Linked DNA regions of Homo sapiens. The protein of the gene in region 1 purifies or fractionates together with the protein of each later gene. This does not show direct contact. Each region holds a gene or a part of one and is shown in the gene's direction. Other genes may lie near its edges. The genes, in order: RHOF, NAA25, CCT6B and KIF14.

Region 1 (7,024 bases):
GGGAGGTGGCTAGCCTCACAGTCTGACAGACCCCAAGGAGGGGCACCCAGGGAGAAGAGATCTGGCTGCTCCCTGTAGGGTATCCCCCCGTGACCAGGGAAGGCTTGCTCATAGGAGGAAATCCCCTGGTCAGTGAGTGCCACCAGGGAGAGCCCAGGTCCCAGTGCTTGTCATGGAGCAAGGCCTGGAAGGTGATGGAATGAATGGGTAGTGGATCCGAATGCCGGAGATGATTCATCTCGGCCTGCAGGTGGACGGCTCTCAGGAGAACAGGACAGAAAGCCATGGCCAGGCGGCCACGTAGAGAGAGGCAAAGGCCAAGAGGGTGAGGGAATGGCCAAGCCAGAAATGAGTCTAGTAAACGTAGTTGTAGAAAGTTCTAGAACCCAATGGGCCACACACAGTGGCGGAAGGGGCATCTTCCCGACTGGTGGCCACCAGAGCTGTGAGACAGGGGTGGCTCTCAGAGGCTGAATTTCTCCACACCCAGGACCAAACGCTGGTCCTGGGCAGGGGCCGGACGCTGCCCACAGGGGCCCTCGTGGAAGGCCCGTGTGGCTGTCTCCCTCCTGAGGAAGTAGTTACAGACACCACAGCGGAGGGAGGGCAGATCGGGTGACGGGGCTCGCAGGGCTCAGAAGGGAAGGGGCGGGGGCCATGGCACTCACTGCTCTGTCGGCCTCACCGGGGCCCTGACATCCTCTGAGGCAGGAAGCTGCGGTGAAGTCTGAAGTTTCCTGGGCCGGGGGAGGCGGGGTGAGGTGGGCTGTGAAGACACAGACGGGAGAGTGAGCTCATCAGGGCCAAGGTGTGGGGTCCAGGGTTAGAGGGGCACAGGATGGGATAGGGGTTGCCCGGGGAGCGGTGGTCCCCTTTTCAGCCTGAGATGGGAACAGAAAGAAAATTGTTAGGCAATGGAGTAGGATTTGCTAAGACAAGGAACCAGGGACAGATGTGTGTTGTGAGCCCCAGAAGCACCGGAGGCCTGGGCTGAGACAAGGCTGGGGTCACCCAGAAGGTGGTCTCAACTCCCAGCTGGGGCTGCCCAGCCCCTGTCTCCCTGGGAAAGCACAGGTGGGCGGCCCCCAGCAGAGTGAGTAAAAGTGGGTTCCTCTTCTGGCAGCTTCACTTCTCATGCTGCCAGTACCCCTCCCTGACCAACGCCGCAGCTGGAGCTGGGGTCCACCCGCCCTGTGTGTCCTCCTGCAGATTTGAGGTCTTTTTTCCTCAACTCTGCTCTGGGCCTTAGAGACCCCTGTCCCTGGAAGCAGGACTTCCTTGGCAAAGCCTCATCCCACCAAGAAAATAGCCCTGTGTGCGGCATGAGCCTCCCTTCCGCCCAGCCCTGCCGCACCGCCTGAGTGCACGTCAGGACGATGGGCGGCTCTAGGGGGAGCCCAGGCCTAGAGACTTCCTCACCAGAAGCACGTGCATCCTTTGCATGTAATTCCTGGGTTTTTTTTTGAGGTGGGGAATGGTTAGAGACAGGGTCTCGCTCTGTCACCCAGGCTGGAGTGCCATAGCATGATCATAACTCATTGCAGCCACAGCCTCTTGGGCTCAAGTGATCCTCCCATGTCAGCCTCCCAAAGTGCTGGGATTACAGGTGTGAGCCACCACGCCTGGTCTACCTGGGCTGTTTTAACCTCTAAGCCCATCTGCAGAGGCTGGATGGGCCCCCTCTGTGACTACGGGCAGGTGACATGGACCCTTTCAGCCCTGGTATCATTTTAGGTAGAATGTGGAGGGTAATGGTATCACCTGGTGGCTGGGAGGCCCCTGAAGCTTCTGGGTCCAAAGATTCTGGGGTTCTGACCACCCACCATGCCAGGCTATTAACTTCTCCTGGAAGTTTCAACAGTAACCACAATAGCAGTCCTCCTGCCTCCCGGCACTGCCCCCCACTCCACCCCTGCCCCTGCACTGCTCCCGCTCTAAGCATTGCCTCCCTTCTCCTGGGCTTTCACCTTCCAGATTAGGGGGAGGGTTATCACTGTTATCACCCCCTCTCCCAGATAAGGAAATTGACACCCAGAGAGGGAAATGTGGGCGTCAATTCGAGATGTGGAGGCTGCCCTGAACAGTCCTGCCCAGAATGTGCATGAGTGAATGGAACCTGACCCTCCTGACTCATATGAGAGAAGGTATTTATTAATAGTACGCTCCCCCATCCCCAAGTGGGCATGGGGTTGGTGCACACGGAAGTAGTCCTCTGCAGGCCTGGTCCCCCCACCACCCCCACGCCCCAAAGGCCCACACTGAATTCTAGGGAAAGCTGGGTTGGGCAGAGTCAAGCCAGGAAGGCAACCTGGAGGAGGTGCTGGAGTCGGAGCTGGCTGCCTCTCCCTTTCCAGAGGCCCTCTTTCTTGAGAGGGCTGACATTTTTCCTCACCTGGTCAGGGCTGGGACAAGTAGGGTGAGGATTCCTTCCTGTTTTCTGGGGTAGGCTAAGAAAAAAAAATACTCCAGTAAGGTCCTCTGTTATTTACAAAGCTTCCCCTTAGCTGTGTGGCCTGGGGCAAGTCACTCCAGCTCTCTGTGCTTCCGTTTCTCAGCCTGTAAAATGGGGCCAACAATAGTGTCTACCTTGTAGGGCTTTTGGGGGAAAGATGAGTTAATCCAGGTGAAGGGCTTTGAGCTAGACCTGGCATGTAACACAGTGGTACACACCTGCGGCCCCAGCTCCTCAGGAGGCTGAGGCAGGAGGATGGCTTGAGCCCAGGAGGTTGAGGCTGGAGTGAGCTATGATCACACCACTGCACTCCAGCCTGAGCAACAGAGCAAACCCCGCCCCCCCCCCCTTTTTTTTTTTTTTTTTTTGAGGCAGAGTCTCACTCTGTTGCCCAGGCTGGAGTGTAGTGGTTCAATCTCTGCTCCACCTCCCCAGCTCAAGTGATTCCCCTGCCTCAGCCTCCCAAGTAGCTGGGATTACAGGCATATGCCACCACATCCGGCTAATTTTTGTATTTTTAGTAGAGACAGCGTTTCACCATGTTGCCCAGGCTGGTCTTGAACTCTTGACCTCAAGCGATCCGCCCGCCTCAGCCTCCCAAAGTGCTGGGATTACAAGCATGCGCCACAGCGCCCGGTCTAGACCATGACTTTTATATGAGAGAAAGAGAGTCGATATTAACCATCTTTATTATGACTGTCATCAAGGCTCGCTCACTTTTCACATCTCCATTTCACAGATGAGAAAACTGAGGCCCAGAGGTTAATTCCCGGTTGGGAAGGCTGGGGACAGCTTCCTGGAAGAACTGGTGCTTTTAGAATGGCCTGGCAGGCAGCTGACCTTGGGGACTGGTTGGCCTCTGGCTCACAGGGTGCTTGTCTCTGACCTTGACAAAGGCCCCCTCCACCACTTGCGTTCTTAACAGGAAGAACTGTCCCCACCCAGCGCACCTCCCAGGGTGGCTGCTTGAATGAACACAGGTCAGGAAGTGGAATGCCCTTGCCAAGGCTGCAGGGCACCTAAAGCCAGAGAGATGACGATTAACCCTCTTCAACCACTCCTTCCTTTGAGCCTTCCTTCACCAAACAGGTATTGAGCTCGCCTGTGTTCCCAGGGACCCAACAGTGAACAGCACAGAGGTGGTTCCTGCCCGCAGGAGAGGCAAACCAAAAAACCCAGAGAATTACTGTTTTTTTTGTTTTTGATTTTTGTTTTTGTTTTGAGACAGAGTCTCGCTGTGTTCCTCAGGCTGTAGTGAAATGGCACGATCTCAGCTCACTGCAACCTCAGCCTCCTGGGTTCAAGCAATTCTCCAGCCTCAGCCTCCCAAGTAGCTGGGACTACACGTGCCTGGCCCCATACCCGGCCAGTTTTTTGTATTTTTAGTAGAGACAGGGTTTCACCATGTTGGCCAGATTGGTCTCGAACTCCTGACCTCAAGTGATCCACCTGCCTCAGCCTCCAAAAGTGCTGGGATTACAGGTGTGAATCACCCCGCCCGGCCCCAGAGAAGTATTGTGAAATCAGGTAGGGGTGAGAGCCATGAGTAAAGCCACTGTCATGGGGCAGACTGCCAAGGAAGCTGTTTCAGAGCAGTCAGGAAAGGTCTCTGGGAGGAGGCGACATTCCATAGAGCCCTGAAGGAGAGGAGGGAAGGAGCCACACTGCTCCCTGTTGAAAGAGCCTTCTGGAGGAGTGAACAGCAAGGGCAGAGGCCCCAGGAAAGGCAGGCAGGGTGTGACTGCCTCCAGCGCCCCGGGGCTGACTTCTTCCCTCACCCACTGCAGCCTGATGCCTGCCCCGCCACCTCCTGTCCTGATGTCACTGCATGCCATAGTTGCCAAACCCAGTGGGCAAGTCTCAACCCTTGTCTCTGCTGTGTGTGACGAGAGTGGAACAACCTTGGCTGACATGGTGGCTCACGCCTGTAATCCCAGCACTTTGGGAGGCCGAGGCAGGTGGATCATCTCAGGTCAGGAGTTTGAGACTAGCCTGGCCAACATGGTGAAACGCCGTCTCTACTAAAAATACAGAAAAAAGGCCAGGTGCTGTGGCTCACACCTGTAATCCCAGCACTTTGGGAGGCCGAGGCGGGTGGATCACAAGGTCAGGAGATCGAGACCATCCTGGCTTACACGGTGAAACCCCGTCTCTACTTAAAAAAATAAAAAAAAAATTAGCCGGGCGTGGTGGTGGGCGCCTGTAGTCCCAGCTACTCTGGAGGCTTGAAGCAGAAGAATGGCGTGAACCCAGAAGGCGGAGTTTGCAGTGAGCCGAGATCACGCCACTGCATTCCAGCCTGGGCGATAGAGTGAGATTCTGTCTCAAAACAAACAAAGAAAAGAAAAGGCTGGGCACGTGGCTCACACCTGTAATCCCAGCACTTTGGGAGGCTGAGGTGGGCGGATCACGAGGTCAGGAGATCGAGACCATCCTGGCTAACACAGTGAAACCCCGTCTCTACTAAAAGTACAAAAAATTAGCTTGGTGTGGTGGCGGGCACCTGTCAAGTCCCAGCTACTCAGGAGGCTGAGGCAGGAGAATCGCTTGAACCCGGGAGGCGGAGGTTGCAGTGAGCTGAGATCGCACCACTGCACTCCAGCCTGGGTGACAGAGTGAGACTCCGTCTCAAAAATAAAATAAAATAATAAAAATACAAAAAAAATTAGCCAGGCATGGTGGCACCTGCCTGTAGTCCCAGCTACTCAAGAGGCTGAGGCAGGAGAACCACTTGAACCCAGGAGGCGTAGCTTACAGTGAGCTGAGATCGTGCCACTGCACTCCAGCCTGGGCAACAGAGCAAGACCCTGTCTCCAAAAAAAAAAAAAAAAAAAAAGTAAAGAAAAAAAGAAATGAGAGAAGACGTCCAAGGGGGCCCCATTTTATAACCTTATCCACGGTTTCACTTTCTGTAGTTTCAGTTACCTGAGGTCTGAAAATATTACCTGGAAAATTCGAGAAATAATTCATAAATTTTAGATCATGCACTGCTCTGAGCAGCGTGATGAGATCGTGCGCTGTCCTGCTGCATCCCACCCGGGATATGATTCGCCCCTTCCTCTGTGTATCCCTGCTGGAGACACCACCTGCCTGTGAGTCAGTCAGTAGCTGGCTCGGTAACAAGCCAGGCTGGTCTTGAACTCCTGAGTTCAAGTGATCCTCCCGCCTTGGCTTCCCAAAGTGCTGGGATTACAGGTGTGAGCCACGGTGCCTGGCCCTGTTTTATTTTATTCTTGTTGTTAATCTCTTACTGTGCCTAATTCATAAACTAAGCTGTCTTATAGGTGTGTACATATAGAAAAAAACAGCGTATCTAGAGTTCTAGACTGTGGTTTCAAACATCCACTGGGGGTCTTGGAATCCACCCTTGTGGGTTAGGGGGACTAATGTACCTGTTCACTCCGGCCATATTTGTAAAAGGGAATAAGTTATGCCAGAACTGTGAACCCCATTGTTACATCTTAAAGGACCAGAACCTATTTTTGCACAATACAAAACAAAATAGCACGTTAGTGTGTATCAGCAGAAGGAACATCCCACTTGGAATTTCATGAGCTGGGGTTGACTCCTGGCCCAGTCACTGAGTCATTGACCTCAAGCAAATCACTTCATTTCTGTGACTCTCAGGTTCTTCCTATGTTGTGGGAGTATTCATCATTTCCCTACCATATCTGGCTGTCATGTAAGGATTTTTTTTTCTTTTTTTTTTTTTTTGAGACGACGTCTTGCTCTGTCACCCAGGCTAGAGTGCAATGGCACGATCTCGGCTCACTGCAACCTCTGCCTCCCAGGTTCAAGCAATTCTCCTGCCTCAGCCTCTGGAGTAGCTGGGACTACAGGCACCTGCCACCACACCCAGCTAATTTTTGTATTTTTAGTAGAGACGGGGTCTCACCATCTTGGTTAGACTGGTCTCAAAATCCTGACCTCGTGATCCCCCTGCCTCGGCCTCCCAAAGTGCTGGGATTACAAGCATGAGCCACCACGCTTCACCAAGGATTTCTTAACCATTTCTAGACTAAAGCACCCTGAAAACTGCATAGAGTATAGGATGTATTATTATAAAGGCAGTCGCAGAGGGCAGGCAGTTATCCTCAAAAGGGAAAAAATATAGATGGTTAATCTGGATGTTTAAGAATAAAATGCTAGAGAGAAAACGGTGAAAAGAGAAATGAGGGAAGGACCTTCCTGGCATGTGGAACAGCAAGCACAAAGGCTGGGACATGAGAGCTTGGTGGGTTTGAGAAACAGTGAGATGGTGCCTTGGCGGGACTGCAGTGAGCAAGCGGGTGTGGCAGGCGATGAAGTCATGTGAACCAGGGGAGATGTTTGGATTTTATGCAAAGGGCAATAGGGGCCAGGCACGGTGGCTCATGCCTATAATCCCAGCACTCTGGGAGGCCGAGGCAGGTGGATGACCTGAGGTCAGGAGTTCAAGACCAGCCTGGCCAAGATGGCAAAAACCCCATCTCTACTTAAAAAATACAAAAATTTCATCCCTGTAATCCCAGCACTTTGGAAGGTCGAGGTGAGTGGATCACCAGAGGTCGGGAGTTCGAGACCAGCCTGACC
Region 2 (7,024 bases), 9.7 Mb from region 1:
CATAGGATAGGCATATGTGTTTAGAGTATCCTGGCCTCCTCTTGATAGGGTGTATCACTGTCCTTTAATCAAGCTAGAAGGTATACTCGAGCTTTTTCAGGTAGTCCTTCTTGAAACCTGCAGGATCACAAGTAATCTTTTTAATTTTCTTGTGTCCGTCCGTCTTTAATTTCTCCAGATACTGCAGGCAAACAGCTCGCCGAGGTGTCCCATGGGGGTTTAAAAGCCGCATCGAATGCAGTTGAATTAGCGCCCGTGGCGCAATCCCGCGGCCTGAAATGAACCCTGCAAGGCTGTATATCAGAGGGTATGTTGTTGACTATTGGCCTATTTTCCTACTGGGCAAATTATTCAGACGTAATGGAGATGGGGGCAGAGCTGATTAACTGAGGCTGTGTAAAAAGACTGTTTTTTCTAGAAAGGATCTTTTTTGGGGGCAGACATCAGCTTTGAGCATAATAGTTTCCTTGGCCCAAAGGGGTAATCTCCTGTCTTCTGATCCTGATGGCATAGACCCACACCCATGAAATGTTCTTCCCTGAGATTTTCTTCTATTGTGCCAGAATTTCTGCTTAGAATTCTTTATCTTGCCTCTGTTCTGTAATGTTTGATCTCTGTATATGTATTAAGCTACAATTAAAGCACATGTGGTGAATGTTCCCTTCACATACTTGTTTAAGGAAATTTCCAGCAGAGGTCTTACGTAATGTAGATGGACAAGAAACTTGGTTCTTGAAGTCTTTGTCCTCAGAATAGATTATGACATGAATTTTGATAGGTCTTTTGTTTGGTGTCTTACTTCTATCCTGACGTAATGCTCATATGCCCTGTGTTTCTAATACAGTATTCAGAAATAAGCAAAACCAAGGAGCAGCCTGTCTTTTTCTGAAGGAGAGTGGTTTTTATTTGGGGGGGCGGGGGGCAGGTGGTTCTATTATTCTGGTGCTTTTGGAACCTTTGTATGAAACACAGTTTATCTTAGATGCAGAAAAACATGGAGTAACATCCCTTCCAGAATGGCACTAACCAAATTTTTGACTGATGTGGCAAAACAAAACCTCAGTTCCTATTGAATTGAAAGACATGACTGCCAAGAGAAGGCTTATGTGATGGTGGCAGAAGCTGGTTATTACAATTAGTAATATTAGTAAAGGAGACATTTGTCTAAAGTATAAGAAGGAAGAAAAACATTTTAAAAAGCTAATATTCTACTTGGTGACCAAGACCTTTAAAGATTAGATTTAAAACTTAATTTTAGTTTGAGTGTTTTGTTTTGGCTGGCAAGGTTTGCTTACATTGCCTGACTTGTGAACTATTTATACCAAGGTGATGTCTTTCCTTCTCAGACCTCAGAATATATTATTCAAGCTTACAAATATGGTGCATTTGAGAAGATCCCAGAGTTTATCGCTTTTAGGAACAGGCTGAATAATTCTCTTCATTTTGCACAAGTCCGTACTGAACGGATGCTGTTAGACCTTCTACTTGAAGCAAATATGTAAGTATTGCATGAGAGCTATAAAGGAACTAAGGGATTAGATCAGTTGTTAAGAGCCATTAATGGGCTCATGGGTGTTATTGGCAGGCTTAAGGTAAAATAGGGGGAAAAAAGGGAGAGAGACAGTGGGGAAACAGAACTTGGCACATGTCATGGGGAATGGTAGAGTACTGCCAGCAACATCTTGAGACCATTACAGAAGCCATTTAGGTCATGGTCATCAATGCCTGGTCCATATTGTGCTTACGAAGGTTCCGCCTCCCCTACAAATCAAGAGATTTCAGGAATTAATGCTGATCCCCTTTGTTTTGTGTGGGCTTCCAGAAGCCTTTTTCTTGCCATGTAGCAAGCCAGTTTGATCTGCGCTTGGTTCTATTTCACCTTATTATGAGCCCTTCCTTCCTCTTTCCCTTCCTGTCTAGTAAAACAGGAAGTCCTGATTAATAATATTTTCTGGCTATTTTACTATTAAAATAATATGTGGATTTTTCTCTATCACAGATCAACCAGTTTAGCAGAAAGTATAAAGTCAATGAACCTTAGGCCAGAAGAAGATGACATTCCATGGGAAGATTTGCGAGACAACAGAGACTTAAATGTTTTTTTCAGCTGGGATCCAAAAGACAGGTAACTGGAATTTAACCCCAAGCAATTTTTAAAGTTTTTGTTTGTTTTTTGTTTTTTTAAAGAGACCAAGATCATAGCTCACTGCAGCTTCGAACTCCTGGGTGAAGCAGTTTATTTTTAAAGAATTAGGTTGGGCTGGGCACGGTGGCTCAGGCCTGTAATTGCAGCACTTTGGGAGGCCGAGGCCGGTGGATCACTTGAGGTCTGGAGTTCGAGACCATCCTGGCCAACATGGTGAAACCCTATCTCTACTAAAAATACAAAAATTACCTGGGCGTGGTGGCGTGTGCCTGTAATCCCAGCTATTCGGGAAGCTGAGGCAGGAGAATTGTTTGAACCCAGGGAGCGGAGGTTGCAGTGAGCTGAGATCGCACCATTACACTCCAGCCTGGGCAACAAGAGCAAAACTCCATCTCCAAAAAAAAAAAAAAAAAAGAATTAGGATGAATCTAAAATTAAAAAAAACAAACTTCACTTTACACAAATATAAAATAACATGTGTTTGTTGTAGGGATCAGAAAATATAGGTAAGCCAAATGAAGAAAGTATAGCTCACCCCTATGCTGGGACTGCTGGTTAATCTAAAAGTTAGATCTACTTCACAGCATATATGAGAATTCCAGATCGATTAAAGACTGTATGCTAAATTCTAGATTCCTTAGAAATTCTAGAAGAAAATATAGAAAATATTTTTAAATAGGTGAGGAAAGCCTTTCCTAGTATTATACCAAATCTGGAAACATAAAGGATTTAACTTCTGTAAATAGAAATAATAAATTTGTTAAGTTCTAAAGGTTTGTAGTAAATTTCTTCATACAAGTATCCTTCATATATAGAGAGAACTCTTAATAAGTCAATAAGAAAATAAGAAATTGGGCAAAGAAACACATCTTACAGCAATAAAGATTTTGTTTCTAGCAAAAAAGATGAATACTTGTGGTCAGCAAGGCTGTGTGGTAAATACTTATTATGCATTTACACAGGGATAAATTTTATACAGTCTTCCTATAGGGAGTTGTAGTGATATGTATCAAGATTTAAAATGCCACATACCATTTAATTTGGCAGATCTGCTTCTAGGAAAGTAGAACCTAAGGAAATAAATGCAGAAACATGCTAAGAAGTGTATATGAGGTAGTTCTGAAAATTCTGTGATTTGTGGGTTGCCAAGGCCACATTCAGTGATTTAGGATTGTTGAGTCCCAGAAGGATTCACAGGGCTGAGCATATAGTTGCACTCAACGGCTAAGGTTTATTACAGTGAAAGGACACATGACAGAATCCGGAAGGGAAAAAGGAACAGGCACAGTCGGGAGAACTCAGACTTCCAGTGCTTTCTCCCTCCTCTGAGGGGAAACACTGAGTATGCTCCTTTCTCCAGCAGGGAAAAATGCAGTAACACAGGTGGAATGTTCCTGCTCAGGGAAACCCAGTAGAGACTTGGTGCTTAAGGTTTCATTGTTATGTGGGTACACTCTGTCTATCCTGAGTGGAAAGAAAGCAGGTATTCACCATAAACAACATGGTTTATATAAACAATCTAGGCACAGCGAGTCACTCTTACCATTTTAGGGAACAGTTGGAGTGCAAAGTTCCCAGACATCAGCCAAGGGCCAACCTTGCAAGTAGGCCTTTCTAACGATAATAGCTGCAGGCCTGCTATGTTAACTCTTTTCTACACATACTGTCATAAAAAGATGAAGTTTGCAAAATAATGTAATTACTGTAACCAATTTGTTTAAACTTAAGTTGCATACATACTATTTTTAGTTACTTTTTTTTTTAGATGGAGCCTCTGTTGCATACTGTAACCAATTTGTTTAAAATTGTTAAGTTGTGTAAGTATTATTTTTAGTTACTTTTTATTTTTGAGACCTAGTCTGTCTCTGTCGCCCAGGCTAGAGTGCAGTCGCATGATCTCGGCTCACTGCAACCCCCACCTCCTGGGTTCAAGGGATTCTCCTGCCTCAGCCTCCCAAGTAGCTGGGATTACAGGTCCCTGCCACCACGCCCGGCTAATTTTTGTATTTTTAGTAGAGATGGGGTTTTGCCATGTTGGCCAGGCTGATCTCAAACTCATGACCTCTGTTGATCCCCCCATCTGGGCCACTCAAAGTGCTGTGATTATAGGTGTGAGCTATCGCAACCAGCCCCTATTTTTTTTTTTTTTTTTTTTTTGTGATGGAGTCTCACTCTGTCGTCCAGGCTGGAGTGCGGTGGCGCAATCTCGGCTCACTGCAACCTCCGCCTCCCGGGTTCAAGCAATTCTCCTGCCTTAGCCTCAGCTGGGACTACAGGCGTGTGCCACCACGGCCGGCTAATTTTTTTTGTATTTTTAATAGAGATGGGATTTTACTGTGTTAGCCAGGATGGTCTCGATCTCCTGACCTCATGATCTGCCTGCCTCGGCCTCCCGAAGTGCTGGGATTACAGGCGTTAGCCACTGCACCGGGCCACACCCGCTATTTTTAGTTAGACTTTTATACATCCACATTACAAAAGTCTAAAAAGATCTATACCAAACTTGATAATACTGTGAGTATTGGTTATCAGGGCACCTTTTCTACGTTTTACATTTTTCTATCATTTGCATTTTTTATGTTGTGTATTATTTTTATTAGAGACAGGATCTTACCCAGGCTGGAGTACAGTGGCGTGACCATATCTCACTGCAGCCTTGAACTCCTGGGCTCAAGCAATCCTCCAATCTCAGCCTCCCTAGTAGCTGGGACTACAGGTGTGTGCCACCACGTCCAGCCAATTTTTTGTATTTTTTTTTTTTTTTTTTTAGAGACTGGGTCTTGCTATGTTTACCAGGCTGTTCTCCAACTCCTGGCCTCAAGCAGTCTCTCACCTCAGCTTCCCAAAGTGCTGGGATTACAGGTGTGAGCCACCACACCTGTCCTCATGTATTATTTTTATAATCAGAGAACAAAGTGTCACTTATAAGGAAAATGACCTGTTTTTTTTGTTTTGTTTTGTTTTGTTTTGTTTTGAGATGGAGTCTTGCTCTGTCGCCCAGGCTGGAGTGCAGTGGTGCAATCTTGGCTCACTGCAAGCTCCGCCTCCCTGGTTCATGCCATTCTCCTGTCTCAGCCTCCTGAGTAGCTGGGACTACAGGCGCCCACCACCACGCCCGGCTAATTTTTTGTATTTTTAGTAGAGACGGGGTTTCACCGTATTAGTCAGGATGATCTCGATCTCCTGACCTCGTGATCTGCCCACCTCGGCCTTCCAAAGTGCTGGGATAACAGGTGTGAGGCACCGTGCCCAGCCAAAAATGACCTGTTAAATAGGTTATCATTCCCATTTTATTGATAGTGAAATGGGGTTTGAGAACATTTTGGCTTGTCTTAGGTCATTCAGCTAGTAAATGAAAGCTGGAACCCTTCAAAGGCATCTTAACTGGTGAAAGTTAACTTTAAATGATTTGAGGCCAGGCGCGGTAGCTGACGCCTGTAATCCCAGCATTTTGGGAGGCCAAGGCAGGCAGATCACGAGGTCAGGAGATCAAGACCATCCTGGCTAACACGGTGAAAACCCGTCTCTACTAAAAATACAAAAAAAAAATTAGCCGGGCGTGGTGGCAGGCGCCTGTAGGCCCAGCTACTTGGGAGGCTGAGGCAGGAGAATGGCATGAACCTGGGAGGCAGAGCTTGCAGTGAGCAGAGATAGTGCCACTGCACTCCAGCCTGGGCGACAGATCAAGACTCTGTCTCAAAAAAAAAAAAAAAAATTGAAAGCAATGGATTGAATATTGAATAAGTTAGATAATTTGGGGATGTTTCTGTTTAAGGGACGTTTCTGAAGAACATAAGAAACTTTCCTTAGAGGAGGAGACCTTGTGGTTAAGAATCCGATCCTTAACATTGAGGCTGATAAGTGGACTTCCAAGTCTCAACCACCCTGTGGAGCCAAAGAACTCGGAGAAGACTGCCGAGAATGGGGTATCCTCCCGGATTGATATTCTTCGTTTGCTCCTTCAACAGCTGGAGGCAACCCTGGAGACAGGAAAGCGATTTATTGAGAAGGATATTCAGGTACCATCAATACATATTTACCATCAAAGTTGCAATAATTATATTTATGACTGTTTTATAAACAGGAGTTTGGGGTGGGTGAGTAGTAAGGAATTGTTTTGTCCCAGTTTATGGCTTCTGCAGGAGAAAGAGGAATATTTTAGACTCAGAGGGAATTGCAGAGGCTTCCTCAATATCCAGACTAGTGAGGGAGAAAGCAAAATAACTTTTTGTGGTGTTAAGTTTTTAATAGCTAGCAACAAATTAATATAAATGTTCTGTTTTTACTGTAATGATTCAGTTATTAGTTTGCTGATTAGTGGCTTTTAGCTGAACCGCTGAGACAGGTTTTTATCTACTAGTTACCTGATTTTCTTATTTTGTATGCATTTAGATGGATTTAAAAGAGCATTATTTTTCTCCCTTTTTTCCAGTATCCTTTCCTTGGTCCTGTACCTACCAGAATGGGTGGATTCTTTAATTCTGGCTGTTCTCAGTGCCAGATAAGCTCTTTTTATCTTGTCAATGATATTTATGAGCTGGATACCAGTGGTTTAGGTAAGTGTACACTGTGTGTTTATAGGGTCTTTGTCATAGAAAATGTAGTACACGTAATAAAATGTCTATAACCTCACATCTGGAAAATTTTAGAGTACATGGAAGCTGGAAGCTGTTCTGCAAATGTGTGGTGTAGTGTATGAGAGGGTACAGTCGTAGGTTACAAAGTAATGTTTTAGAAGCTTAAGTCCATTCCATATTTAAAATCACTTGTTAGGTCCAAAAGTTGAAGAAATTCTTCATTTGTTGAAAGGCTGTTGGATTTTAAAAATGAAGCAGTAGGCTGGGCGCAGTGGCTCACGCCTGTAATCCCAGCACTTTG
Region 3 (7,024 bases), on another chromosome or scaffold:
TTTTTGTATTAATGATAGGAATTGTTACTGCAAGTTTGTATGCTGGTAAGGATGGTTCTTTAGGTGAGAATTGATATAGGGGACTAGGGGACAGTGCAAGAACAGAGAGGGAAATGGAATCCAGTACACAAGTAGAGAGGCTACCCATAGAGAGGAACATGGACAGCTCATTCATAGTAGTAGGAGGTTCAGGGTCAAGTGCAAGTGGATTGGTAGAGGTAGTAATGGGACAATGTTTCTATTTTCTCAAAGAAACAATGTCATTTGCTGACAGTAGGGAGGGAGGAAAGTGAAGGAGGCTTGAAGAGTGAGGAATGTTGAACATAGTGTTATTGTTTCTAGATATGTTTACATTCTGTTAAGAGGTGGAGTAATCTAGTTAAAGTAAAATTTTGAAAACTTCCTTATAATTATGTTGAACTAAAATAGTTTAAAAATATATAACAAAAATTAGTTATAAAGGATTCATAAGTAGAAATTCCATCCCCTGAATGTTTTGTAAATGAATTTTATAAAGTTATAAAAATATTGACTCTTGAAAGATTATTTGGAAAACAGGAAGAAACACCTCCTTTCCAAATCATCTATATTCCTACTACCCAGGCATAACCCCTACTCTTAGGTCCCTCCCATTTTTTTTCTTTTTAATGCCAAGTTGTTTTTTTTTTTAAATTTATTTATTTATTTATATTTTTTATTATACTTTAAGTTTTAGAGTACATGTGCACAACGTGCAGGTTTGTTACATATGTATACTTGTGCCATGTTGGTGTGCTGCACCCATTAACTCATCATTTAACATTAGGTATATCTCCTAATGCTATCCCTCCCCGCTTCCCCCACCCCACAACAGGCCCCGGTGTGTGATGTTCCCCTTCCTTGTCTGTTGTTAAAAAGAACAGTTATAGGCATGCTTCATATGCAATTTGTCATTCTATGCTTATCAGCTAGCCCTATAAATATTTTTCCATGTTATTACATACTTTTTATAACCATCAAATAGTTGGGTCATTATTTGCTGAATAATACCCTATTGTTGGACATTTAGGTTAACAATTTTTAGTTGTTCCATATAATCATTTTGAATAAATGTTCCTAAGAAACTCATTGTATACGTACCTTTCATTACTTGATAAGCTGTGTCATATTTTTGAATCACATAACTTAGAAAATAATTCTGGCTTGACTTTTTATTGTGACTTCATAGTCACACTGTGTTAAAGTAGATTCTCTTTCCTAATTTTACTAATTATATGTTAGGTTTAAAGTCAATGCAAGGAGGTGGGTGAGGTGGTGCACTCCTTTAGTCCCAGCTACTTGGGAGGCTGAGGCAGGAGGATTGCTTGAGCCCAGGAGTTCGTGGCCAGCCTGGACATCATAGCAAGACCCCCATCTCTGAAAACAAAAAACAAAAACACCAAAAACTGTTAAAATTGGTACAAGGAAACAATGTGTGTCCTGGAAGTATTGATGTAACTTTAATAGTACAATGATAATTTTATACCAAATTTTAGAGTATATATTCAAAGTAAGAAACATTAATATTTTTAATAGGTTGATCCAAGGATTAGTTTTGGATCATGGTGCCCGTCATCCAGATATGAAGAAGCGAGTAGAAGATGCATTTATCCTTATTTGCAACGTTTCACTGGAATATGAAAAAACGTGCGTGTTACTTTCTCTTTATAACTTTTGAATTTTTTTTTCTAAAGGTGTTTTAAAATCTCTTTTTCCTTCCAGATGTTTGGTGTAGACTACTTCTATCTTTTTTCCTTTTTCCTCCTGCCTTTACTAGCTGGTTTTTATTAATCTTTTAGAGAGGTGAACTCTGGTTTCTTTTATAAGACTGCAGAAGAGAAAGAGAAATTGGTAAAAGCTGAAAGAAAATTTATTGAAGATAGAGTACAAAAAATAATAGACCTGAAGGACAAAGTCTGTGCTCAGTCAAATAAAGGATTTGTCGTCATTAATCAAAAGGTGAGAAAGAAAGTTTAGATTTTAGTTATTTGTAAATGTTCTTAAGCATTTCTTGAAGTGTGGTCTGTGGACCCCTAAGAATCCCTAAGACTTTTTCAGAGAGTCTGTGAGGTCAAAAACTATTTTCATAATAATAATTACACCTTTTACATTGTGTTGACATTTGCAATGATGCTGCAAAAGCAATCTGTAAAACTGCTGGCACCTTAGTACAAGTCAAAGAAGTAGCACCAAACTATACTAGTAGTCATCGCATTCTTTATTGCTATACCACTGCAAACTTACAGTGAAAAAAAAAAAAGGCAGTATCATTTAAGAGTGTCTTGATGAAGTGGTAAAACTTATTAATTTATTAAATTTTGATTCTGAAATATGCATCCTTTTATTATTATGTGTGACAAAATATGAAGTATGCACAAAGCACTGTTTTTTTTTTTTCTTTTGAGACAGGGTCTTGTTCTGTCATCCAAGCTGGAGTGCTTGGGTGGCACCATCATAGCTCACTACAGCGTTGACCTCCTGGGCCCAAGTGATCTTTCCACCTCAGCTTCCCAAGTAGCCAGGACTACAGGTGTGCATCACCATGCCTGGCTAATTTTTAAGTTTTTTCGTAGAGGCTGGGTATTGCCATGTTGTGCAGGCTGGTCTCAAGTGATCCTCTTGGCTTGGCCTCCCAAAGTGTTGGGATTATGGGGCTGGGAACTTCAAAGCTCTTCTATTGCATACCAAAATATGATGGTTGTCTTGAAGGAGAGCACTTGTGTAATTGTTTAAATTGCAAGGTAAACTAGCCACTTTTTCATGGAATGCCACTTTTACCTGGAAGAATGACTGACAGACAAACTGTGGTTATCTAGATATGGGTATTTGGTAGATTTCTCTCAAAAATGAATGAGGAAATTCTGTGACTTAAAACAACTGACAGTATTTGTTGTCAATAACATTTGAACTTTTTTAAAAAATTAGAATTTCAGAAAACTTGTATCTGCCATGTGAACTTGACAGCTTTCCAATACTTAAAAGACTTTCCTGATAATAGTAGTGATATTAACAAATGTGAGTTTTTGTTCACTGAGATAGGCAAAGTTTCCACATGCATAACATGACACAGTTTCTACATGTATAACACAACATTTTATATATGAAATGTGTCAACATGTGGAAACTTTGCCTAACTCAGTGAACTGATGCTATCTACATGACTAAAAATGCATGATTTTTATAAAATCATACATGGATAAATAATCCATTCAGTGTGCAAGTTACAGCAATGTGTTTTAATGTGAGATAGTATGAAAAGTTCATTGCTATGGTTCCATAGTGAAACTAACCTTTGAGAAACTATTACTTACTGAGTTTTGGTATAGTATCAAAGAAGAATTTCCATAATTATCTGAAAAGCCTATTAAAATATTACTCCCTTTACAATATTTATCTGTGTGGGGCCAGATTTTCTTCATAAACTTGAACCAAAATAACATATCATTCCAAATTGAATACTGAATGAGATATGAGAATCCATTTGTTTTCTATGAAGATAAACATTGAAGAGATTTGCAAAAATGTAAAGTAATGCCACTGCTAGCTCACTATATATATTTTTGTTTTCAAAAGTGTAGTAAATTTTCATTTAAAATGTTATGTGTATTAACATAAAATGGGCTTATTATTTAAATGAATTAATAAATATTTTAAAAATTTCTCAGTTTTTATAATACAAATATTATAGATAGAGCTTACATAAACAAAAGCTTTTTGGGTGCTTAATCATTTTTAAGAGAGTAAAGTGGTGCTGAGACCAAAAGGTTTGAGAAATACTGGTTTAAAACATGTTTATAATTTTTATGTTAATTTGATTATAGGGAATTGATCCATTTTCCTTAGATTCTCTTGCAAAACATGGAATAGTAGCTCTTCGCAGAGCAAAAAGAAGAAATATGGAAAGGTAAGCTTGCAGATAATTATATATCCTAAGTTTTTAACAGAGTAAATGGAAACTATCCCATGTGTTTTCCTTTTAGCTTATGTGTAAATGTTGTTGAACAAAACAGTGGCATAAAAAAATCCAAATTTTGTTTTTAGTTTCAGTAAATAATTGAACTGTCAAAAAGCAAGGTTGTTAACCTACTGCAGAACTTTGTTGAAGTATAAGGAAAGTTTTTATCTTTTTAAAACAGATTTTAAAAACAAAACAATACAACATAATACAGCATGATCTCACTTTTATATATGGAATCTAAAAAAGTTGAACTCATAGAAGTAGATAGTAGAATGGCGGTTACCAGGGGCTGGGGCAGTGGGAGGGGAGGGGCACTGGGAATATGTGGGTCAAAGGATACAAAATTTCAGTTAGTTAGGAGGAATAAATTCAAGAGATCTATTGTCCAACATGGCAACTGTAGTTAATAACAATATATTGTTCTTTTTAAAAATCTTTTGCAAACCCACCCGAGAATGCACAATGTGTTGGATTCTTGAAAAATGCTGAGAGTAGATTTTAAGTGTTCTTATCACACAAATGGCTAAATCAAGCCTCACATAGGCAATATGTATGTTAATTAGCTCAATTTAGCCATTCCACAGTGTATACATATTTAAAAACATCATCATGTTGTACTCGATAAATATAGACAATTTTATTAGACAATTAAAAACCCAAAACAATACAATACAGTAACAATACAGTCTTCTGCATTAGATATCTTCTCTCTGAGAAATTAGTATTAATGTTCTCCATAATCAAGCTATGGTGACATATATGTAATTTCAGACTCTCTCTTGCTTGTGGTGGAATGGCCGTGAATTCTTTTGAAGATCTCACTGTAGATTGCTTGGGACATGCTGGTCTTGTGTATGAGTATACATTAGTGAGTATTTCTATGAACAGTGGTTATAAAGTGAATACTAAGCCCCCTTTTTTAAAGAAAAATACTACTTGACCTTTTATTTCATGTTTTGTGTTTTGAGATCTAATTCACAGAACAGATTTTACAGTTTATTTACCTAAATGTTTGTTAAGAGTTCAGATATAACTTAACTCCCTTAGTTATGCTTGATAAGAAAAATTCAAATGAAGATTGTATTCTAGTATAAATTGTTGATTTTATAATGACATCAAATATTAAAGTTATATATTTTTGTGCCACCCTTTAGGGTGAAGAAAAGTTCACTTTTATTGAGGAGTGTGTTAACCCTTGCTCTGTTACCTTGTTGGTTAAAGGACCAAATAAGCATACTCTCACACAAGTCAAGGATGCCATAAGAGATGGACTTCGTGCTATCAAAAATGCCATTGAAGATGGTAAGCTCTTTCTTGTGATTGATATGAACCTCATGTATATGTGTGTATATATGTATATATATATACACACACACCTATGTATGTATATATGTATATTTTTAGACAGAGTCTTCCTCTGTTGCCCAGGCTTTAGTGCAGTGGTGCGATCTCAGCCCACTGCAACCTCTGCCTCCCAGGTTCAAGTGATTCTTCTGCCTCAGCCTCCCAAGTAGCTGGGATTACAGGCACACACCACCACACTTGGCTAATTTTTTGTATTTTTAGTAGAGATGGGGTTTCGCCATGTTGGCCAGGCTGGTCTCGAACTCCTGGGCTCAAGCGATCTGCCCTTGTTGGCCTCCCAAAGAGCTGAAATTACACGTGTGAGCCACCATGCCTGGCCTTTAAGTCTTTTTAAATTTTATTTTTATTATTAATCTATTTAATCTATTTATTTCTTTTGAGACCAGGTTTTGAAACTGGCTAATTTTTGTATTTTTGGTAGAGATGAGGTTTCACCATGTTGCCAAGGTTGGTCCTGAACTCCTGGGCTCAAGGGATCCACTTGTCTTGGCCTCCCAAAGTGCTAGGATTACTGGCATGAGCCACTGCGCCTGGCTGCAAACCTCACATATATATATTTTTCTCAAGACAGGGTCTTGCTCTGTCACCCAGGCTAGAGTGCAGTGGCACAATCATGGCTCACTGCAGCCTCAAACCCCTGTGCTCAAGTGATCCTCCCACCTCAGCTGGACGATAGGTGCATGCCACCACACCTGGCTAATTTTTAATTTTTTTTTGTAGAGATGAGTTCTGTCTATGTTGCCCAGGCTGGTCTTGAACTCCTGGCCTCAAGCAGTTTTCCCCCTTCAGCCTCCCAGAGTGCTGGGATTTGTAGGCACGAGCCACCACATTCAGCCCATGTTGAGCATCTTTTAATGTGTTTATTTGCCCTTTGTATATCTGGTGAATTTTCTGTTTAAATCTTTTGCCCTTTTAAATAATTGGATTGTTGGCCATGCACAGTGGCTCTCACCTGTAATTCCAGCACTTTGGGAGGCCAAGATGGGAGGATTGCTTGAGCCCAGGAGTTGGAAACCAGCCTGGGCAACATAGCAAGACCATGCCTCTACACACACACACACAAATAGCCAGGCGTGGTGGCCTGTACCTGTAGTTCCAGCTACTTAGGAGGCTGAGGCAGGAATATCACTTGAGTCCCAAGAGTCTGAGGTTACAGTGAGCTATGATCACACCACTGCACTCCAGCCTGGGCGTCAGAGTGAGACCCTGTTTCCAGAAAAAAAAAAAAGAGAAGAAAAGAAAAGAAAAAAATTTGTGTTAGTATACTATTGTTGAGTTTGAGAGTTCTTTGTATATAATTTGGGTACAAGTGCTTTTTCAGATATATAATTGGCAAATTTTTCTCCTCTGTGGCTTATTTTATTATTAACAGTGCCTTTCAAAGAGAAGTTCTTAATTTTGATGAAGTCTAATTTATTATTTTTATTCTGTCATGGATTATGCTTTTGGTGTGGTATCTGAAAAATCTTTACCTAACCTAGGGTCATAAAGATTTTCCTCTAAAAGTGTTACAGTCTTATGTTTTACATTTAGGTCTGTGATTCATTTTAAGTTAAATTTTGTATATGGTGCAAGTATGGATACAAGTTCATTTTTTTCATATAAAGGTATCAGATTGTTTTAGTCTTATTTGCTGAAAAGACTTTACTTTCACCACCGAATTGCCTTTTCTCGTGTATAAAA
Region 4 (7,832 bases), on another chromosome or scaffold:
AACAGCCTGTGGTCTAAACCAAAAAAAAAAAAAAAAAAAAAAAAAAAAACCTTATGTAAACGGGTAAAGACATGTGGATGGGTGTGGAATTATTCATGAAGCTACAACACTGAAGAAAAACTCCCCTCTCTCCCCTCTAGAAAGACTGAGATGATGTATAATTCTTGCAATCCAGGTGGCTTCTTACTTGACAGTTGCCCTTTTATACCCACGAACATGAGAAGCAATTACTTGACACAATCTTTTTTATGCTGTTTTTTAAATTAGAAAATTGATTTATGTGAATACACAAACTAAAAATTGATTATAAAAACAACTAAACATGTGTCATTCTAGGCAATTCTAGGCAGCCTAGACACTGCTAGTATTGACATGTACCACCGAAAAGAAATGAGATTATGAACTATTTTGGGGTTAGTACAGACAGCTGAGTGATTTGTACATACTCAACATTCTTATTGAGATCACCTAATACCTCTCTGTAAATTTGTTGAAAAGTAAGTGACTTGAAGCTTTTCATTATCCATTTTAGGAAAATACCTACAAGTCTACTTGGAGGAATCCCCAGCATTTTCAACAGGATGTCAGAATGACCTTGGGCTATGTTGGCAAAGCACAATGGGAAGAAGACAACCAATTGAAGGTCAAACTAGGCCTTAAAAAAAATTGTTCTTCCTAAATGAAACTTTATGTAAGACCCAAGCTTCCTTTATGTAAAAATAGGATACTCACTAGGCTTTGGGGCTGACAATGGTTTTTAAATCTTGCTAATCTTCCCTGGAATGAAACCAGCATGACTCAAAGAGAAAAAGAGAGTCTATAATATTTTCTAATCCCTGAGTTCTTTTCTTTATATATTAAAAAGGATTACTAGGCTGGGTGTGGTGGCTCACGCCTGTAATCCCAGCACTTTGGGAGGCCGAGGGGAGTGGATCACCTGAGTTCGAGACCAGCCTAACCAACATGGAGAAACCCTGTCTCTACTAAAAATACAAAATTAGCCAGGCGTGGTGGCGCATGCCTGTAATCCCAGCTACTCAGGAGGCTGCGGCAGGAGAATTGCTTGAACTCGGGAGGCAGAGCCAAGATCGCACCACTGCACTCCAGCCTGGGCAACAAGAGTGAAACTCTGTCTCAAAATAATATTAATGATAATAATAATAATAATAATAGGGATTACTTGCATAATTGTTCTTTTAAAATTATTGGCAGTATTGCTGAATGTATTTAGATTTTTTCACCAAGTGACAACAACTGAATTCATAAAGATTCATCAACAAGACCTGATAAAAAAAAATGTAAGCATATTATAGTGGATACTTCCAAGACTCTTGGTCTAACATGTATTAGAAAGCAGAAGGAGCCCAGGCACAGGGGCTCCCGCCGGTAATCCCAAAGCTTTGGGAAGCCAAGGCAGGTGGATCGCTTGAGCTCAGGAGTTAGAGACCAGCCTGGGCAACATGGTGAAATCCCGTCACCACAAAAAAATGCAAAAATTAACTGGGCGTGGTGGCATGCACCTGTAGTCCCAGCTACTCTGGAGGCTGAGGTGAGGGGAATCACCTGAGCCGGGGGAATCACCTGAGCCCAGGGAAGTTGAGGCTGCTGTGAGCCATGGTCATGACACTGCCCTCCAGCCTGGACAACAGATTGAGACCCTGTCTCAAAAAAAAAAAAAAAAAAAGAAAAAAGAAAAGAAAGAAAAAGAAAATTAGGGCCGGGCGCGGTGGCTCACGCCTGTAATCCCAACACTTTGGGAGGCCGAGGCGGGTGGATCACGAGGTCAGGAGATCGAGATCATCCTGGCTAACATGGTGAAACCCTGTCTCTACTAAAAATACAAAAAATTAGCCAGGCGTGGTGGCGCATGCCTATAGTCCCAGCTGCTCAGGAGGCTGAGGCAGGAGAATGGCGTGAACCCGGGAGGCAGAGCTTGCTGTGAGCCAAGATGGCGCCACTGCACTCTAGCCTGGGCGACAGAGCAAGACTCCGTCTCAAAATAATAATAATAATAATAATAAAAATAAAAAAAAGAAAATTAGAAGGAAAATACAAAATATGACAGATTTTAAAATACCTTTAGGTTCATGCAGTTTGTTTAACTCTTGTCCTTATTATAAAGCCATAGACATTTGAGATCCAGAAAGAATCTGTAAAAACTGTTGTACAGGGTAGTGGTACAGAGCACAGGAAATGGTGTTTAATTTCCTGAGTTCTGAACCTAACTCTGTGACCCAGTAGTTGTATAATGTCAGGCAAGCTATTTAACTCCTTGGAAACCCACTTTCCCTCATGTGTAAAACAGCGATAATCATAATACCTATCTTATAAGGTTATGGAGTTAGGTTATTTATCTTGCACAAAGAAAGGACTCAATCCTTGCTGGTTATGATGATTTAATCCAGCACTTTCGTTTCACAAGCGAGGGATCTACAGTAAGGAGACTTATCTCTGGTCTCACCATTAGGTTGAGACAGATCCTCAGCTAGAATCCAAAGTGCTCTTACCACTTTTCCACAACTTTTGCTTTGTCCTTTGCATTTTAAAATTATTAATTTCCTATTGCACCTTTTCGTTATAGACCCCAAGTGCAACTAGATACAAACACCAGGAAAATACATACCACATTTTAATAATTTAAAAATTGTGAAATTTGCTAAATTGTAATAGATTTAATCTTAGGCCGGGCGCAGTGGCTCACGCCTGTAATCCCAGCACTTTGGGGGGCTGAGGTAGGTGGATCACCTAAGGTCGAGAGTTCGAGACCAGCTTGACCAACATGGAGAAACCCCTTCTCTACTAAAAATACAAAATTAGCTGGGGTTGTGGTGCACGCCTGTAATCCCATCTACTCGGGAGGCTGAGGCAGGAGAATCGCTTGAACCTGGGAGACGGACGTTGCGGTGAGCCAAGATCAAGCCATTGCACTCCAGCCTGGGCAACTAGAGCGAAACTCCGTCTCAAAAAAAAAAAATTTAATCTTAAGAGATCATTAATTAGCATGAGTTAATCATTTTTCTTTAAATCTTACATAATCCAGAAAGCTTCAAACGTGCCAGTTTTACTTCGACTCTTTCCACGTTTTCTTTCTGTTTGTCTCCCTCTGGTGGATTTAAAAAAATACTTGCTTTATTCTATTTATGAGCTTATTTTCCTTTTAAAATTGAAAAAGGTCTTTATGTCTTCTGTCATGTTTAATATATATTTCCAGTTACATTTTATTTTTATTATTTTGAATTATACATATGTTTAAAATTTTTATGTATTTGAGTTTGTCTGTCTTTTCTTTGACATATCTTGCTTTGTTTCTAAATTGAATGATCATTTTCCCATAGATGTGATAACTTTTTTTTTTTTTTTTCTTGAGACGGAGTTTCTCTCTTGTCCCCCAGGCTGGAGTGCAATGGCGCGATCTCGGCTCACTGCAACCTCCGCCTACCCGGTTCACGTGATTCTCCTGCCTCAGCCTCCTGAGTAACGGGGATTACAGGGGCCCGCCACCACGGCTGCCTAATTTTTGTATTTTTAGGAGAGACGGGGTTTCACCATGTTAGCCAGGCTGGTTTTAAACTCCTGACTGCAAGTGATCCGCCTGCCTTGGTCTCCCAAAGTGCTAAGATTACAGGCGTGAGCCACCGCACCTGGCCCTGATAAATATTATATTCTATTTTCTGATAGTTTCCTTATACCTTAATTTTAATTGAGTTTTAGAATGATTTTTAGAGTAAGATTTAGAATGAGTACTTTATCATCTGTTTGGTTGGTCTATATAATTGGAGCTACTTATGGTCTCTATCTCAGTGAATACTTCTTCAATATCTCTGTACTTTTTGCCTGTTTAAAAAACATTGTTGCTTTACAATATCTATTTATCTAGTCTTTCTCATTTATTTGGTTATTTTTCAGAATGTATTTGTAATATTTTTTCAGATTTCAAAATCTTATGGGGGCTGGGCGGCGCAGTGGCTCACGCCTGGCAGCTTACAAGGTCAGGAATTCGAGACCAGCCTGGCCAATATGGTGAAACCCCGTCTCTACTAAAAATACAAAAATTAGCTGGGCGTGGTGGTGCGCGCCTGTAATCCCAGCTACTCCAGAGGCTGAGGCAGGAGAATCGCTTGAACCAGGGAGGCGGAGGTTGCAGGGGCCACTGCACTCCAGCCTGGGCTGCAGAGCGAGACTCCGTCTCAAAAAAGAAAAAAAAAATTAAAAAAAGGGAACTTTTACTGAAACGGAGTTACATTGTACGGCGGCAAGAACCTTCAAGTTCTAGTTATGCCACTGCTAATTGTCTGATCTTTCACAAGTTTAACTCTAAACCTCAGTTCCTCATCTGTAAACGAGGGATAACATTAATATTTATCTCACAAGATTTTCAGGACTGTTTAAAAATTCATATAAGACATTTAGCATATTTCCTACGTGAACGCCTTGCATAGGAAACACTAGAAAAGTTAATTATTATGATTAACTTGGGGGCAAATATCCATTTACAATGTGAAGTCTTCGATGTAATGGCTTCTTTTAGATTAAAGACCGACAAGAGTGTCACTGTCATGCTTTTCGTTTGACACCCACTTCAACGAGGGGCCCGCTGCGCCCGCGACCGCCGCCCCTTCCTCTGGTCGGATTTAAAGGGGGCCAAGCTCCACGCTTTAGCAGAACCCGAGGAGGGGAGGGAGCGTTGCCTGGGAGATGAGGGTGGGGCGAGTCCAGCATTCAGAGACGGCTACCGGAGCCCAACCACCGGCACTTCCGGGGGGCGGGTGGAAGCAAAGGCGCGGCACCCGACGCGACGCCCAGCAGCCAATCAGAAGGCGGGGCGCCCATTCAAATTGCGGCCTTCTGGGGAGCCGGCGCTGGAGGTGGTGAGTGGCGTGGGGACTGTGTCGAGGGGGTCCCCAAGGTGCCGGACCCTGCGGAGGGGCGAAGTTTCGGCACTGGGGAGGGCGTGCGGACGCTTTCCCTACAGGCGACCACTGCTCTGCGGGCGGGTGGTCTTAGCTCCAGTCCCCCATTCAGTTCCTCAGCATTCCAGGTCGGCGGCGAAGGGGTCCCCGAACGAAGGGCGCAAGGCAGCGTCTCTGCTGGGACCGGGAAGCCGGACTTCAGGGCCTCTCGGCCCGTGGGCTTCTCCCCGAGTCTCCCCGAGTCGGTTGGCATTAAGAGGTAATTCTTAGTCATAGCCCCTGGTAATGACTAGCAGAGAAAGAACAGAATCACCGGATGTTTTGGTTTGGATTGTGCTTATTTTCCTTGTATTCCTTCCAGTCCTCTTTAAAATCTGATGGCGAAACTCCTCAAACAGAAACCGTATTGATTTGTGCAAATCGCAAATGGTTTTTAGTTGCAAGAGAATTTCCAGAATCTTCTTTTTGCCTTTAAATTCATTTCATAACAGGAAAATTCTGTATTTTGAGTTGAAACGTTGATGGGAGATGCTTATAAGCTGACGAATTTTTTTTGTAATGACTGTTATTTATGTAAAAATTTAAAAGCCTCATTTAAAAATGAACTTCCATTAATTTGTTCCTCGCTAGCAATAATCTTTGCAATAGTTTGAACCAGTGTCATTTTACAGGTTAGAACCCGGCATGCAAATTTAAAGTCTTGTTTACATCCTTGTAAGGAGTTGGATACAAAGCTGACTAAAAGCCAGGTCTCTTAGCTGTCACTGCTGTTCCCTTTCTTTAAAACGTTAATACCTGATAGATATTGTTGCTGTATATTTACATACACCTCTGTCTAATTTGTTGTCTTACTGCTAAAGGGCAGGTTGTCTGTTTATCTAATCTTGCATGGTTTTTCTCAACACAATTAATTTACAGTACTTATCGTACTTACTGCCTGTGGTACTTGGGAATAATCTGCCTCGTGACACCAATCAATTCAATCTTCTCTATAGGCATTCCTGTATTCAACATACATGGGCCGGACGCGGTGGCTCACGCCTGTAATCCCAGCACTTTGGGAGGCCGAGGCGGGCGGATCACAAGGTCAAGATATCGAGACCATCCTGGCCAACATGGTGAAACCCCGTCTCTACTAAAAATACAAAAATTAGCTGGGCATGGTGGTGGGCGCCTGTAGTCCCAGCTACTTGGGAGGCTAAGGCAGGAGATTTGCTTGAATACAGGAGGAGGAGGTTGCAGCAAGCCAAGGTCGTGCCACTGCACTCCAGCCTGGTGACAGAGCAAGACTCCATCTCAAAAAAAATATTTTTATAAAAATAAAATAAAATAAACCTTCTTATGGAACATTGGCAAAAAAAAAAAATACGTGTAGCAGGTATTTATAAAAATACTTTGCTCCACACTCTGATTTAGGTGCTAGGGTTTCCTTTAGTCCTTCCCATTCCCCACACTGGAAGTACTTGAAAATCTATGTTGGCATGCACTTTTTACATCTTCTAAGTCACTTGACACATTTGGCCTGATATATGGCTTATCAGTATATTTCTTCTAGACTAAAGAAATGGGAATTGTATTCTTGTCTTTGAAGTCTACAGTATCTATCAGAGGGCCTGGCACTAATGGAAACTTAGTCAATATTTGTTGAATAATGATGGTAAGTTCTCTGAGAGACTTGCCTGAAGTTGCTTGGAAGCAGTATCTGAGCTGCAGATTGTGATCTATTGTAATGTATGCCTCTGGGAATTTACTTACACAATGGGATGTTCTCTCTATATTTTTAAAGCTTGTTTGTAGTCTGTGTGATCTAAATCTTTTTTTTTTCTTTTAGTTTAGCAGATACTTTCAGAAATGGATACATAAGAAATGGCTGGAAATCAAATGAATGTCCAAAGAAGAGCTTAGGGTCTTAGTAACATTCTTTTTTAAAATAACTGTCTGCCAAAATGTCATTACACAGTACTCATAATAGAAATAACAGCGGTGATATTCTTGATATTCCTTCTTCCCAAAATAGTTCATCACTGAATGCCCTCACCCACAGTAGCCGACTTAAGCTGCATTTGAAGTCGGATATGTCAGAATGTGAAAATGATGATCCATTATTGAGATCTGCAGGTAAAGTCAGAGACATAAATAGAACTTATGTTATTTCTGCCAGTAGAAAAACAGCAGACATGCCCCTTACCCCTAATCCTGTAGGTAGATTGGCACTTCAGAGGAGAACTACAAGGAACAAAGAATCATCTTTGCTTGTTAGTGAGTTGGAAGACACAACTGAAAAAACAGCAGAAACACGTCTTACATTACAACGTCGTGCTAAAACAGATTCTGCAGAAAAGTGGAAAACAGCTGAAATAGATTCTGTCAAAATGACACTGAATGTGGGAGGTGAAACAGAAAATAATGGTGTTTCTAAGGAAAGTAGAACAAATGTAAGGATTGTAAATAATGCTAAAAACTCTTTTGTTGCCTCTTCTGTACCTTTAGATGAAGATCCACAGGTCATTGAAATGATGGCTGATAAGAAATACAAAGAAACATTTTCTGCCCCCAGTAGAGCAAATGAAAATGTTGCACTTAAGTACTCAAGTAATAGACCACCCATTGCTTCCCTGAGTCAGACTGAAGTTGTTAGATCAGGACACTTGACAACGAAACCTACTCAGAGCAAGTTGGATATCAAAGTGTTGGGAACAGGAAACTTGTATCATAGAAGTATTGGGAAGGAAATTGCAAAAACTTCAAATAAATTTGGGAGCTTAGAAAAAAGAACACCTACAAAATGTACAACAGAACACAAACTGACAACAAAGTGCAGCCTGCCTCAGCTTAAGAGCCCAGCTCCATCAATACTGAAGAATAGAATGTCTAACCTTCAAGTTAAACAAAGACCAAAAAGTTCCTTTCTTGCAAATAAAC

Evidence for each region.
Region 2: the proteins of RHOF (region 1) and NAA25 purify together in Homo sapiens (affinity purification with mass spectrometry; 2 studies listed by BioGRID and IntAct, with this or other methods). This does not show direct contact.
Region 3: the proteins of RHOF (region 1) and CCT6B purify together in Homo sapiens (affinity purification with mass spectrometry; 2 studies listed by BioGRID and IntAct, with this or other methods). This does not show direct contact.
Region 4: the proteins of RHOF (region 1) and KIF14 purify together in Homo sapiens (affinity purification with mass spectrometry; 2 studies listed by BioGRID). This does not show direct contact.

The regions. Positions count from the first base shown.
Region 1 is NC_000012.12:121,783,687-121,790,710, reverse strand, and holds part of RHOF (rho-related GTP-binding protein RhoF), read left to right. Parts: exon of another isoform or gene 1-556; intron 557-7,024. UniProt on the Homo sapiens protein: Plasma membrane-associated small GTPase which cycles between an active GTP-bound and an inactive GDP-bound state. Causes the formation of thin, actin-rich surface projections called filopodia.
Region 2 is NC_000012.12:112,042,766-112,049,789, reverse strand, and holds part of NAA25 (N-alpha-acetyltransferase 25, NatB auxiliary subunit), read left to right. Parts: intron 1-178; exon of another isoform or gene 179-307; intron 308-1,346; coding exon 1,347-1,498; intron 1,499-1,999; coding exon 2,000-2,125; intron 2,126-3,178; exon of another isoform or gene 3,179-5,137; intron 5,138-5,921; coding exon 5,922-6,165; intron 6,166-6,578; coding exon 6,579-6,702; intron 6,703-7,024. UniProt on the Homo sapiens protein: Non-catalytic subunit of the NatB complex which catalyzes acetylation of the N-terminal methionine residues of peptides beginning with Met-Asp, Met-Glu, Met-Asn and Met-Gln. May play a role in normal cell-cycle progression.
Region 3 is NC_000017.11:34,937,437-34,944,460, reverse strand, and holds part of CCT6B (T-complex protein 1 subunit zeta-2), read left to right. Parts: intron 1-1,554; coding exon 1,555-1,665; intron 1,666-1,817; coding exon 1,818-1,977; intron 1,978-3,839; coding exon 3,840-3,922; intron 3,923-4,747; coding exon 4,748-4,844; intron 4,845-5,130; coding exon 5,131-5,278; intron 5,279-7,024. UniProt on the Homo sapiens protein: Component of the chaperonin-containing T-complex (TRiC), a molecular chaperone complex that assists the folding of proteins upon ATP hydrolysis.
Region 4 is NC_000001.11:200,617,748-200,625,579, reverse strand, and holds the start of KIF14 (kinesin-like protein KIF14), read left to right. Parts: upstream 1-4,828; 5' UTR 4,829-5,169; exon of another isoform or gene 5,170-6,741; 5' UTR 6,742-6,856; coding exon 6,857-7,832. UniProt on the Homo sapiens protein: Microtubule motor protein that binds to microtubules with high affinity through each tubulin heterodimer and has an ATPase activity. Plays a role in many processes like cell division, cytokinesis and also in cell proliferation and apoptosis.